Homo sapiens: one gene and its partners. The protein of the gene in region 1 purifies or fractionates together with the protein of each later gene. This does not show direct contact. Each region holds a gene or a part of one and is shown in the gene's direction. Other genes may lie near its edges.

What was found. Proteins that work in one complex are often made in the same cells at the same time.
Region 2: the proteins of NADK (region 1) and KIF13B purify together in Homo sapiens (affinity purification with mass spectrometry, with the first as the bait; one large-scale study listed by BioGRID). This does not show direct contact.
Region 3: the proteins of NADK (region 1) and TESK2 purify together in Homo sapiens (affinity purification with mass spectrometry, with the first as the bait; one large-scale study listed by BioGRID). This does not show direct contact.
Region 4: the proteins of NADK (region 1) and RASAL2 purify together in Homo sapiens (affinity purification with mass spectrometry, with the first as the bait; one large-scale study listed by BioGRID). This does not show direct contact.

What each region holds. Positions count from the first base shown.
Region 1 is NC_000001.11:1,768,471-1,771,970, reverse strand, and holds part of NADK (NAD kinase), read left to right. Parts: intron 1-3,500.
Region 2 is NC_000008.11:29,141,071-29,144,570, reverse strand, and holds part of KIF13B (kinesin-like protein KIF13B), read left to right. Parts: intron 1-2,267; coding exon 2,268-2,414; intron 2,415-3,500. UniProt on the Homo sapiens protein: Involved in reorganization of the cortical cytoskeleton. Regulates axon formation by promoting the formation of extra axons. May be functionally important for the intracellular trafficking of MAGUKs and associated protein complexes.
Region 3 is NC_000001.11:45,481,164-45,484,663, reverse strand, and holds part of TESK2 (dual specificity testis-specific protein kinase 2), read left to right. Parts: intron 1-3,500. UniProt on the Homo sapiens protein: Dual specificity protein kinase activity catalyzing autophosphorylation and phosphorylation of exogenous substrates on both serine/threonine and tyrosine residues. Phosphorylates cofilin at 'Ser-3'. May play an important role in spermatogenesis.
Region 4 is NC_000001.11:178,440,104-178,443,603, forward strand, and holds part of RASAL2 (ras GTPase-activating protein nGAP), read left to right. Parts: intron 1-1,445; coding exon 1,446-1,544; intron 1,545-2,571; coding exon 2,572-3,126; intron 3,127-3,500. UniProt on the Homo sapiens protein: Inhibitory regulator of the Ras-cyclic AMP pathway.

The sequences.
Region 1 (3,500 bases):
CCAGGTGTGGTGGTGCATGCCTGTAATCCCAGCTACTTGGGAGGCTGAAGTGGGAGGATTGCTTGAGCCTGGAAGGTTGAGGCTGCAGTGAGCTGAGATCACACCACTGTACTCCAGCCTGGGCAACAGTGGGAGATCCTGTCTCACAAAAAGACAAAAAAAAAAAAATTTCCAGTGCTTTCTTCTAAAAAGTTTCATAGTTTTAGTCCTCACATTTAGGTCTATAATCCATTCTGAGTTAATATTTGTATGTAGTATGAGGAAGTGGTTGGGCTTCGTTCTTTTAGACGTGGCTGTCCAGTTGTTCAGAACTATTAGGTGAAAAGATGATCCTCCTCATGTTGAATCACCTCAGCACCTGTCAAAAATTCATGGACTGCATGTGTGTGAGGGTCTGTGGCGTCTACCTTTGGGCTGGCCGTCCTGTTTCCTTGATGTGTATGTCCGTCTTGATGCTGCCACGCTGTCTGGTTCCCGTAGTTTTTCAACAAGTCATGAACTTAGCCCTTCGCGTTTGTTCTTGTTCAAAGTTTTTTCAGCTGGTCTAGATACTTTACATTTTCATGTGAATTTTATCAGCTTGTCCTTTCCTTTAGAGAAGCCTGCTTGGCTTTTGATGGTTGTGTTTGGGTAACATTTGCAGATCAATTTGATGAGAACTAAGATCTCAATATTGAGTCCTCCAATCCATGAACATGGTATGTCTCTCCATTTATTTAGGTTTCCTTTCATCTCTGTCAGCAATATTTTGTAGTTTTCAGTGTGCAGTTCTGACATGTCTTTTGCCAAATATATCCCCACATATTTTATATTTTTAATGCTATTATAGATCATATATATGTATATATATTTTAATAAGATATATATTTTTAATAATATATGTGTGTGTGTGTGTATATATATATATATATATATTTTTTTTTTTTTTATAAGATGAAATCTCACTCTTGTTACCAAGGCTGCAGTGCAATCTCGGCTTACTGCAACCTCCACCTCTCAGGTTCAAGTGATTCTCCTGCCTCAGCCTCCCAAATAGCTGGGATTACAGGCATGTGCTACCATGCCTGCCTAATTTTTTATATTTAGTAGAGACAGGGTTTCACCATGTTGGTCAGGCTAGTCACAAACTCCTGACCTCAGGTGATCCCCACCCACCTCGGCCTCCCAGTGTTGGGATTACAGGCGTGAGCCACCACACCCAGCTGTAAATTATATTGTTGTTATTATTATTATTATTTTGAGACAGAGTCTCTCTCTGTCACCCAGGCTGGGGTGCAGTGGTGCGATCTCCGCTCACTGCAAGCTCTGCCTCCTGGGTTCACACCATTCTCCTGCCTCAGCCTCTTGAGTAGCTGGGACTACAGGCACCCGCCACCATGCCCGGCTAATTTTTTGTATTTTTAGTAGAGACAGAGTTTCACCATGTTAGCCAGGATGGTCTCAATTTCCTGTTGTCTATTGCTAGTATATAGAAATACAGGCGATTTTTGTGTATTGAATTTGCCTTCTGAAACCTTGCTAATAAACTCACTTATTTGTTTTTCTACATAGAAATGTCATGTCATCTGCAAGTACAACTTCACTTGTTCCTTTTCTTATTTTGTTTAACAGACCTACATTTCATGCCAAACCTTTTCTGTCACTGTACCTTTTATTTTTTTCTTATGTTATTGCACTGGCTGTGGCCTCTAGTATAGTCCTCAATAGGAGTAGTTATACCAGACATGTTTTTGTAGGTTCTGGTTTTCATTGAATTTTTCATGGTTTTTTTTTCTTTTTTTCTTTTTTCTTTTTATTGAGGCAGAGTCTCACTCTGTCACCCAGGCTGGAGTGAGTGGTGCGATCTCGGCTCACTGCACCCTCCACCTCATAGGTTCCAGCAATTCTCCTGTTCTCCTTCCTCAGCCTCCTGCATAGCTGGAGTTACAGGTGCCCACCACCACTCCAGGCTAATTTTTTTGTTTTTGTTTTTGTTTTTGTTTTTGTTTTTGTTTTTGTTTTGAGTGCTGGGATTACAGGCAAGAGCCACTGCTCCCAGCCCTTTTTTTGTATTTTTAGTAGAGACAGGGTTTCACTGTGTTGGTCAGGCTGGTCTCAAACTCCTGACCTCAAATGATCCACCCACCTCGGCTTCCCAAAATGCTGGGATTACAGGTGTGAGCCACCGTGTCTGGCCGAATTTTTCATGTATTTGAATAAAACACTGGTATGTCTTTTTTCTTTTTTTTTTTTTCTTTTCATTTGAGATGGAGTCTTGCTCTGTCGCCCAGGTTAGAGTGCAGTGGCACGATCTCAGCTCACTGCAGCCTCTGCCTCCCAGGTTCAAGGAATTCTCATGCCTCACCCTCTCCAGCAGCTGGAATTACAGGCACGCGCCACCACACGCGGCTAGTTTGTTTTTTGTTTTTTGTTTTTTTTTTGAGACGGAGTCTCGCTCTGTTGCCCAAGCTGGAGTGCCATGGCGCGATATCGGCTCGCTGCAAGCACCGCCTCCTGGGTTCACGCCATTCTCCTGCCTCAGCCTCCTGAGTAGCTGGGAGTGTAGGCGCCCACCACCACGCCCGGCTAATTGTTTTTTGTATTTTTAGTAGAGACGGGGTTTCGCCATGTTGGCCAGGCTGGTCACAAACATCTGACCTCAGGTGATCTGCCCGCTTCGGCCTTCCAAAGTGCTGGGATTACTGGCGTGAACCACCGCACCCAGCCTGTACTTTTAGTCGAGACAGGGTTTCATCATGTTGGCCAGGCTGGTCTTGAACTCCTGGCCTGAAGTGATCCGCCCACCTTGGTCTCCCAAAGCACTGGGATTACAGGCGTGAGCCACCACATCCCGCCTGGTATGTCTTAAGCTAGGGAGATATTGACCCACTGGGACAGTACTGTCAATTCTCGCTAAACATTAGAATCTTCTGGGGAGCTCTTTTAAAGTGCCGGTGCCTGGGCTGTACCTTCAGGTTCTGATCATTCAGTCTGGAGGGCACGTAGGAATTGGTGTTGTTTGAAGCTCCTAAGGTGATTGTAGAATGCAGCCAGAGAGAGAACCAGCTTTTGGGTATTCAGAGAACCCGTTGGCTTTGACCGTAGCATAGGGCCCACAGTCTTGTGTCCATAGTTCCTGAACTTTCCTTCTGCCCACCTTGCCATCATCTCACATATTTTAGTTGTTTTATTTAGGCTGCTGTAACAAAGTGCCACAGGCATGGGGCAGGGGGCGGGTAAACAACAAAAATGTTTGTTCTCAGAGCTCTGGAGGCCAAGAGTCCAAGGTCAGGGTCCCAGCTAATTTGGTTCATCGTAAAGACTCTCTTTCTCACTGTAATGGCCATCTTCTCTGTGTCCCCACATGGCTTTACTTTTGTGCCCAGTGAGGGTGGGAACAGAGGTGAGGAGAGAGCTCTCTGGTGTTCTGTTTTGTTTTTGAGACAGGGTCTCTATTGCCTAGGCTGGAGTGCAACAGCACAATCACAGTTCACTGCAAAACCTCAAACTCCTGGGCTCAT
Region 2 (3,500 bases), on another chromosome or scaffold:
TTGACTGTAAGATGGCCGGGCATGGTGGCTCATGCCTGTAATCCCAGCACTTTGGGAGGACAAGGTGGGCGGATCACCTGAGGTCAGGAGTTCGAGACCAGCCTGGCCAATATGATGAAACCCCATCTCTATTAAAAATACAAAAATCAGCCAGGCGTGGTGGCAGGCGCCTGTAATCCCAGCTGCTTGGGGGGCTGAGGCAGGAGAATCACTTGAACCCAGGCGGAGGTTGCAGTGAGCCGAGATTGGGCCACTGCACCCCAGCCTGGGCGACAGAAAGAGACTCTGTCTCAATTAAAAAAAAACACACACACGCATTTTGACCGTAAGAATTCTCAAATGTTTGTTTTATTATTTAAATTTTTTTCTTAGAAAATGATTGTAGGCAAGATGTTAATGAAACATCAATGTATTTCAAAGTTCTCTTCAGTTTTAAGTAGAACATTTGAAAAATTAAGCCAGTAAACCTAAATTGATTAGATAACCAGTAGATATGTCTCCCTCGGGGAAATGTATAGGGGCTTTTTTTTTTTTAACTTTGTGGTTTTTTAAAAGTTCTAAAATTTTTTCTACATTAAAAACACATTGCTCAAGTTCTACTCTGAAAAAAATCCACATTGCTCTTATAAGCTGGAAAAACTTCAGAGCATACTTTTTTTGGGGGGGAGGTGTGATACTTGCATAATAGAACATTACTTTTTTTTAATTTTATTATTATTATTTTTTTTGAGACAGAGTCTTGCTTTGTTGCCCAGGCTGGAGTGCAGTGGCGCGATCTCGGCTCACTGCAACCTCCTCTTGGGTTCAAGCGATTCTTCTGCCTCAGCCTCCTGAATAGCTGGGACTACAGGCGCCCACCACCATGCCTGGCTAATTTTTGTATTTTTAGTAGAGACGGGGTTTCACCATATTGGCCAGGCTGGTCTCAAACTCCTGACCTTGTGATCTGCCTGCCTTGGCCTCCCAAAGTGCTGGGATTACAGGCGTGAGCCACCACACCTGGCCAAACATTACTATTTTAAAGTGAATAACTCAGTGGCATTTGGCACGGTAATAATGTGGTGTGAGCACCGCTTCCATCTAGTTCTGTATGATCTTAATAAGAAACCCAAACAATGCATATTTGGAAACTGGTATCATTAATTGCTTCCACGTGGGTGAATCGGGGACTTTTCAGTTTACTCTTTTAAGTGTTTCATGTTTTATACCCCCTGAAGATGCCATCCATTACAATAAAACAAAATTCAGCCTCTGAGAGGGACGTTTCTTCCCCATACACCGCAGCAAACTTTCCCTCTCTCCCCATTGATAACGTTGTGGTCATATGGTGGCCTGAATAAAATACTTTTATTTCAACTTGCTGTTAAATGTGGTCTTTTGGGTTTTAAACTTAAAATCATTTCCAACTACAGTCAAAATTTAAATGTGGTGGCTCATGCCTATAATCCCTGTGCTTTGGGAGGCTGAAGCAGGGGGATCACTTGAGGCCAGGAGTTCCAAACCAGCCTTGGCCATATAGCAAGACCCTGTCTCTATGCAAAACAGACAAAATTAGCTGGGTGTATTGGCATGCACCTGTGGTCCTAACTACTTGGGAGGCTGAGGCAGGAGTATCACTGGAGCCCAGGAGTTCGAGGCTGCAGTGAGCTATGACGTGCCACTGCACTCCAGCCTGGGTGACAGAGTGAGATGCTGTCTCTTTACACACACACACATGTATATATTTATTTATTTTTGAGAGTCTCATACTGTCACCTAGGCTGGAGTGCAGTGGCAAGACTTCAGCTCACTGCAACCTCTGCCTCCTGGGTTCAAGCAATTCTTGTGCTTCAGCCTCCCAAGTAGCTGGCATTACAGGCACGTGCCACCACACCCGGCTAATTTTTGTATTTTTAGTAGAGAGGGGTTTCACCATGTTGGCCAGGCTGGTCTTGAACTCCTGACCTCAAGTTATCCACCTGCCTTGGCCTCCCAAAGTGCTGGGATTACAGGCGTGAACCACCATGCCCAGCAACTCCCCCCAAAAAATTTTTAATGTAAGTTTATACTTAAAGTGAAGTTTATAAATAGGTTTTGATTGCACTTGGGTAGGAAGGTATTATGTTATAGCTTGTAAGACTTTTTGGAGGCTTTGTAATCAACAGATTAAAGGATGATTGCCATTTGAGTTTTGGTGTAATGACATTTGACTGATGGGGGTGGAATTGTCAGCTTTGACTTCCCCGCTGCCTGTGTGTTTCTCACGGTCATTCTTACTCTCTTTGCAGCGAGGCTCTCTTCTTAGTGAGCCTGCAATCCAGGTGAGAAGAAAAGGAAAAGGAAAGCAGATTTGGTCTTTGGAAAAACTGGACAACAGGCTGTTGGATATGAGAGACCTTTATCAGGAGTGGAAAGAGTGTGAAGAAGATAACCCAGTAAGTTATTTAAGAGAAAATCACTTAATTGGTAATTATGGAAGGAGCCAAGCTGGAATGAGTCTACCCATTTCAGGGGAAAATTGTTCTTTTTCCAAAATTATAATCCTATTTCTGGAGTAAGGTTTATTTTAATCCCCTAAATTGTTTAGCAAATTAACAATTTTAATAATCTCTCTTTCTGGTATCTTCTTTTTTCTTCTCATTTCTGTCTTTTAGATTTCTAGCAGAATTCTCCACTTTCCATTCTGACTTCTGTTGGTGTGCGGGTGTCTGTCTCCTGTGCTCTCTGGGAACCTCTTTAGGACAGAGGCCAGGCCTCATTATTTGTCTCTCCTCCCATTGCTCAACCCGTTTAACCTTGCAGATAATAAACCTACAATATATGTTTTGTAAGTTGAACATCGGTGGTATCTTAATATTTACACTCCAAGGAGCATTTTTGAAGAAGTTTTGATCATAACATAAATGCCATAAATCTATACATTGGTACTCTGTCCTTAACTTGCAGGTTTTCTTACTTAGATCAGCCATGTACTCATACGTATTTAAAATAGAAGTGCATATTATGTATGTCTGAACATATTTTCATTACCGTTAGACCTGTTTCCGCATAGAGTTGTTTACTTCCTTTGCCTTTTGTTTTGTAAAAATGATTTTTCCAGATTGTTATCAATAAAAATGTTTCTTATAGTTAGGTGATGTTTTTGCTTAAAACATGTTTGTCTCTTTGGTACCCCTCTCCTATTTCAACTTAGAAATAAAACAACAGTAATAAATAATGAAAGAGCCACTCCCATAGGGGCTCACCTTTTTTTTTTTTTAGATGGAGTCTTGCTCTGTCATCCAGGCTGGAGTGCAGTGGCACGATCTTGGCTCACTGCCTCCTCTGCCTCCTGGGTTCAAGTGATTTTCCTGCCTCAGCCTCCCGAGTAGCTGGGATTACAGGCGCCCACCACCACACCTGGCTAATTTTTGTATTTTTATTAGAGACGGGATTTCACCATGTTGGGCAGGCTGGTCTCAAACTCTTGACCTCAGGTGACCCGCCTGCCTTGGCCTCCCAAAGTGCTGGGATTATAGGTG
Region 3 (3,500 bases), about 44 Mb from region 1:
GCCTTCCGGGTTGAAGCGATTCTCCAGCCTCAGCCTCCTGAGTAGCTGAGTAGCCGTGCACCACCACGCCCGGCTAATTTTTTAATTTTTAGTAGACACGTGGTTTCACCGTGTTGGCCAGGCTAGACTTGAACTCCTGACCTCAAGTGATCTGCCCGCCTCAGCCTCCCAAAGTGCTGGGATTACAGGCATGAGCCACCGCGTTCGGCCTCTTTTAGACTTTCTTTAGGCGAATGCTTACAAATAAGAATATATGGCTGGGCGTGGTGGCTCACGCCTGTAACTCCAGCACTTTGGGCGGCAGAGGCCGGTGGATCACCTGAGGTCAGGAGTTTGAGACCAGCCTGGCCAACATGGTGAAACCCCGTCTCTACTAAAAATACAAAAATTAGCCAGGCATGGTGGCAGGTGCCTGTAATCTCAGTTACTCGGGAGGCCGAGGTAGGAGAATCACTTGAACCAGGAAGGCGCAGGTTGCAGTGAGCCGAGATCGCGCCGCTGTACTCCAGCTTAGGCGACAAGAGGGAGACTCCATCTCAAAAAAAAAAAAAAAAAAAAAGAAGAATTAAAAATGAAATGATACAGTTGGCCCTTGAACAAAACAGGGGTTGGGAAGCCAACCCCTGTGCGGTAGAAAATCCAAGTATAATTTTTTTTTTTTTTAAGACAGAATCTCTTGCTGTTGCGCAGGTTGGAGTGCAGTAGCAGGATCATGGCTCGATGTAGACTCAACTTTGTAGACTCAAGTGATCCTCCCTTTTTAGCCTCCTGAATGAGTAGCTGGGACCACAGGTGCATGCCACCATGCCTGGCTAATTTTTTTTTTTTTGTAGAGACAGGGCCTCCCTATGTTGCCTAGGCTGGTCTCAAACTCCTGGGCATCAACACTCCTCCCATTTCAGCCTCCGGAAGTGCTGGAATTACTGGCATGAGCCACTGTGCCTTGGCCCCAAATATAATTTTTGACCCCCCCTCCGCCGCCCCCTCGCGGCAAAACTTAACTACTGCTGTTGGTGATGGTGTTGCATAACCTGGCTTCATTAATTTCCTTTTTTTTTTTTTCTTTTTTCTGAGACGGAGTTTCGTTCTTGTTGCCCAGGCTGTAGTGCAATGGCACAGCTCACTGCAACCTCTGCCTGCCGGGTTCAAGCAGTTCTCCCTCTTCAGCCTCCCGAGTAGCTGGGTTTACAGGTGTGCGCCACCATGCCCAACTAATTTTTTTGTATTTTTAGTAGAGACAGGGTTTCACCATGTTGGCCAGGCTGGTCTTGAACTCTTGACCTCAGGCCATCCGCCTGCCTCGGCCTCCCAAAGTGCTGGGATTACAGGTGTGAGCCACCACGCCCGGCTCCTCTTTTTTGTTGTTGTTGTTTTTTTTTTTTTGAGACGAAGTCTCTCTCTATTGTCCAGGCTGGAGTGCAGTGGTGTGATCTCAGCTCATTGCAAGCTCCACCTCCTGGGTTCACGCCATTCTCCTGCCTCAGCCTCCTGAGTAGCTGGGATTACAGGTACCCGCTACCATGCCCGGCTAATTTTTTTTGTATTTTTAGTAGAGATGGGGTTTCGCCGTGTTAGCCAGGATGGTCTTGATCTCCTGACCTTGTGATCTGCCCGCCTCAGCCTCCCAAAGTGCTGAGATTACAGGCGTCAGCTACTGCGCCCGGACATTTTTTTTTTTTTTTTGAATTGGAGTTTTGTTCTTGTCACCCAGACTGGAGTGCAATGGCGCCATCTCAGCTCACTGCAACCTCCACCTCCTGGGTTCAAGCAATTCTCCTGCCTCAGCCTCCCGAGTAGCTGGGATTACAGGGGCCTGCCACCACGCCCAGCTAATTTTTGTATATTTAGTAGAGACAGGGTTTCACCATGTTAGCCAGGCTGGTTTCAAATTCCTGACCTCAGGTGATCCACCCCCCTTGGCCTCCCAGGGTGCCTGGATTACAGGTGTGAGCAACCACGCCTGGCCCCAGGTATAATTTTTGACTTCCCGCAAAACTTAACTGCTGTTGCTGTTGGCATTGCATAGCCTGGCTTCATGAATTTACTTTTTTTTTTTTTTTTTTAATGGCTGACCACTACTGCTGCAGATCTCAATCTGTGGTACATATCAAGCAATTCAAATTTTTATTTATTTATTTTTTTGAGACAGGGGCAGTTGCCCAGGCTGGAGTGCAGTGGTCTGATCATAGCTCACTATGGCCTCGACCTCCCAGGCTCAAGCCATCCTCCCATCTCAGTCTCCTGAGTAGCTGGGACTACAGGTGTGTGCCACCACTCCAGGATAAGTTTTTATTTTTTTGTAGAGGCATGGTCTCACTATGTTACCGTGGCTGGTCTCAAACTCCTGGGCTCAAGCAATCCTCCTGCCTTCAGCCTCCCAAAGTCCTGAGATCACAAGTGTGAGCCACCATGCCTGGCCAACTTTTTCGTATAATGTCATGACCTTTCTGTTTCTTGAGAGCACTTCCAGCATTAGTGGCACTTGGTATGGATCTCATGGTGTTATTCAGGGTTTACAGTATTGCACTAAGCATGATGAAAAATATGCACGAACCTTGAGAGATCACTTTTTACTGTGACACTTTTTACTGGAGGAAGGAACTGCTCACGTGGAGACGATTAGCATCACACAGCATTTTAGGGGCTACTCACAACACTTGCTCACTGAAACAGCAACAGGAGGTGGCTCCAGAATTATTACAGAAGTACAGTATATACTATAGTCAATTTTATGCAGTTGTGATTTAATACTGCACCTTTCCATTTGTTTACTGTTGACTATGAATGGCACCATGTATGGTTTGTATTTGTGTGCATAAGTTTTTATACATTTTAACTTTTTATAATAGATTTGTATATATCTTATAGTAAATAATAAAATAGACTAGTATCTACATATATTTTCTGCATTCATGGCATACCTAACTTTTTCTTAATTTTTTTGATGTTTCTAGGCTAGGTGTTTTGTTTCTGAGTTTTTTTCAAAATGTTATACATCTCCAAAAATTTAAAAAATATATTTGTTGAAAAAAATCTGTATGTAATACAGCTTTGCCTGTAGTTTCAGCTACTCCAGAGGCTGATGTGGGAGGATTACTCGAGGCCTGGAGTTTGAGGCCATAGTGTGCTATGATCACACTTGTGAATAACTACAGCACATGAGTGGACCTGTACAGTTCAAACCCGTGTTGTTCAAGGGTCAATTGTATAGTCCTGTTTTTCCCACTTTTCATGTACAGTTGCCCATGGTTCCCCACTGTTCTGCACTTCCCACCCCCAATCTTGCTTATTTTTTTTTTGAGACGGAGTGTTGCTCTGTCGCCCAGGCTGGAGTGCAGTGGCGCAATCTTGGCTCACTGCAAACTCCGCCTCCTGGGTTCACGCCATTCTCCTGCCTCAGCCTCCCGAGTAGCTGGGACTACAGGCGCCTGCTACCACGCCTGGCTAATTTTTTGTATTTTTAGTGGAGATGGGGTTTCACCGTATTAGCCAGGATGGTC
Region 4 (3,500 bases), about 180 Mb from region 1:
TGAATAAACAAAATTGCCAACTATCATAAGGTAATTTCTCCCTTCCAAATATGTACTACTAGCCAGTTACAAGTAAAATTCAAAAACTATATATACATGTATTTATACATACATAGAATTATTAGGGCTGAGATTTGATTAATTAACAAGAGCTTACTAAGTGACTACAGATGAGTCCTATACTAGATGTTGTAGAAGTCAAAAGATGTTTGTTTGGTTCCTCTTCTTATGGACCAGCACTGTCCAAAAGAAATATAGTACAATCTGCATGCATATCCAAAATATTATCATTTCAACATGTTCACTATCAGAGAAATTGTTTCCTTTTTTTTTAAAACTAAGTCTTCAAAATCTGATGTGTGTTTACACTTGCAGCACATCTCAATCTGGAATAGCCATGTGAGGCTAGTAGCTGCTGTATTGGACAGAGCATATAATCTGATCGGATTTATTAGGTTGTGACCAGAGATTGAGTTAATAAGTGAGCAGACTTCAGCAATTTGGGCAAGACATTTATTGGTGTTCTTTTTTATAAAAATCAGTTGAACTTTCTTGTATTTGCGGAACTCAGTTCATTAGGCTGTATATCAAGCCCAGAGTTAGGTGCTAAGTATATAACAACATATTTCATTTTTAAAGGACTGTGTTAATAGTGGTCAGGCTAACCTAATAAATGACTAGAAATCAACAGGCTGGTTGCGTAGTGGAGGAAAAATGGGTTCCAAAGATAGTAATTCAATATTAGTAACTCTTCAATTTCATTTAGCACCCTTCTATAATATAGTGAGGACAGTCTCAAGAAATCTGATAAGCTGTTTCAGAAACTCTCATCCTTTATTACCTATTTTTTACTAACTCAAAGTTGAACATATTTATTTGCAGGTAATTTAAGTTATTGCCTAAAAGGCCTTTAATTTTGATTTTTCTGAACCATAGGCCAGTTTTAATTTCCTTGGATGAATTTAAAATGGCCTTTGTTCTCATACCTGGAAATGGATGTGGATGCTACCTAAGCAAAAAGCAGATGTAGATGTAGATATAAGTATCGGAAAACTAGCAAAGATCATCTTAGTTTCTTATGGTATGATTTAGGTTCATAGCATATGTCTAACTCACAGCTTTGCATTCCTTTTGGCCTTGTCTACTTTCAATAAAATTGGACTCTTAGTACATTTTCGTCAGAGGATGAGACTAACAATAACACTAAATTAGTATATTAATTTTTTAGTATTGGTAAGGATGTCGCTCATTAGGTTATTTTTGTAACCACAGCATGAGTAGTTTGGGATCTGAGACCATGTTTTTCTTATCTATCCATCCATCCATCCTAATTCCAGGACATTTCGACCTTATCATTTAAGAGTTAGAGGTATGCTGTGAACCCTAATGACAGAGCCCTGAAATCCAGTGTTTTCTTTTTCTTATGTCTAATTTTTATGTTGAAGGTTACCTACTTAAGTGGAAGTAAATGCTTCAGCTGTAATTCTGCTTCTGAGAGAGACAAGTGGATGGAAAACCTTCGCAGGACAGTTCAACCTAATAAGGTAATAGTAGCTTCAAGTATCTAAAAAATGTATAACTTTGTAAGCAGTTAATTGATAGAAGGTAAGTGTGGTAGTAATACCTTAATTTGTCTATAGCTTGAGAGTTTTAAAGCACATTTATATGTTATGCCATTTGTAGTAAGCCCTTATTATATCACCATAAAGAAGTATCTGAGACTGGGTAATTTATCAAGAAAAGCAGTTTAATTGGCTCACGGTTCTGCAGGCTTTACAGGAAGCATGGTGCTGTTATCTGCTCAGCCTCTAGTAAGGCCTCAGGAAACTTACAGTCATGGCAGAAGGCAGAAGGGGAGCAGGCACATCACATGGTGAAAGCAGGAGCAAGCGAGAGAGAGAGTGTGTGTGTGAGTGACTTGGGGGGAAGGTGCCACACACTTTTAAACCACCAGATCTCACAGGAACTCAGTATCAGGAAGATGGCACCAAGGCATGAGGAATCTGCCCCCATGATCCAAACACCTCCCACCAGGCCCCACCTCTAGCACTGGGGATTACAATTCAACATAAAATTTGGGCAGGGACAACTATCCAAACTGTATTATCATTTTAAGCTAAAAGCAGTCTTACTGCAGATATTATTGCCATGGTTCTACCAGCATGGATAAAAGGACTCTGAAAAGTTAGGTGAATTGGCCATGTCAGAAGCTAGTACATGATAGAAGAGGGACTAGAATACGAGCTTCTTAACAGCTTATCTCTTTTATTTGCAGATATTAGACTGGTTATATGAAAACTTACCGTTACAAAATGATATTTTCTTAACCCAAGTAAATAAAATAGAATGAACTATATATAATATATATAATGAACTATATATAATTCTTCAAGATTCTAATGCATGCTTGTTTAGAGCTTGCTGTTAACCTAAGCAATGAGATAGCAATCCCTTTCATTATTTGTTGACTCCCCTTAATAGAGTACCTAATGAACATTGCCAACTTAAGAAAAAAATGTTTTTTTTTCTGCAATGTCAGCTCTGAAATTCAGCTTTGTTGCCTCTTTATAGGACAATTGCAGGCGAGCTGAAAATGTTCTTCGTTTATGGATCATTGAAGCCAAGGACCTTGCCCCTAAAAAGAAATATTTCTGCGAACTGTGCCTTGATGATACCCTCTTTGCTCGTACAACCAGCAAGACCAAAGCAGACAATATTTTCTGGGGCGAACATTTTGAATTCTTCAGCCTTCCACCTCTTCATAGTATCACAGTTCACATTTACAAGGATGTGGAAAAAAAGAAAAAAAAGGACAAGAATAATTATGTAGGGCTAGTCAACATCCCCACTGCCAGTGTGACTGGTCGCCAATTTGTAGAAAAGTGGTATCCAGTGAGTACACCTACACCCAACAAAGGAAAGACAGGAGGACCTTCTATTCGGATTAAATCACGTTTCCAAACTATCACCATTCTGCCTATGGAGCAATACAAAGAATTTGCAGAATTTGTCACCAGCAACTACACCATGCTGTGTTCTGTCCTTGAGCCAGTAATTAGTGTGAGAAATAAAGAGGAGTTGGCTTGTGCCTTAGTGCACATTCTTCAAAGTACTGGCAGAGCCAAGGTAAGTGGAAAAGGGGGATTGCAGTACCTGAAGTCTCTTCCCTACCTTTCATAAACCAAGATATGGATATTGTAGAAATCCAAATTAGAGAAATGTGCTTTACTATTGGTCAAAACAAGAAGAATTAAGAAGAAAACCTATTAGATCCAGAAAAGATGAAGATTATAAAACTAAACAAGTAAAATGGAGAGACCAGCAAATATTTAAAGCCAATTTGCATGAAACATAGATAACACAGCCAGCTCTTTCTTGTCTGACAAAATAAATGGTAGGATTGGCACGATAACCCTACAGCATGTTCAAGGTTCCTTATCTTTAATTTAGTTCTAGAGTGTTGTATGGTGGTTTTCTTCCTCACTGTATTTTATTTAAGT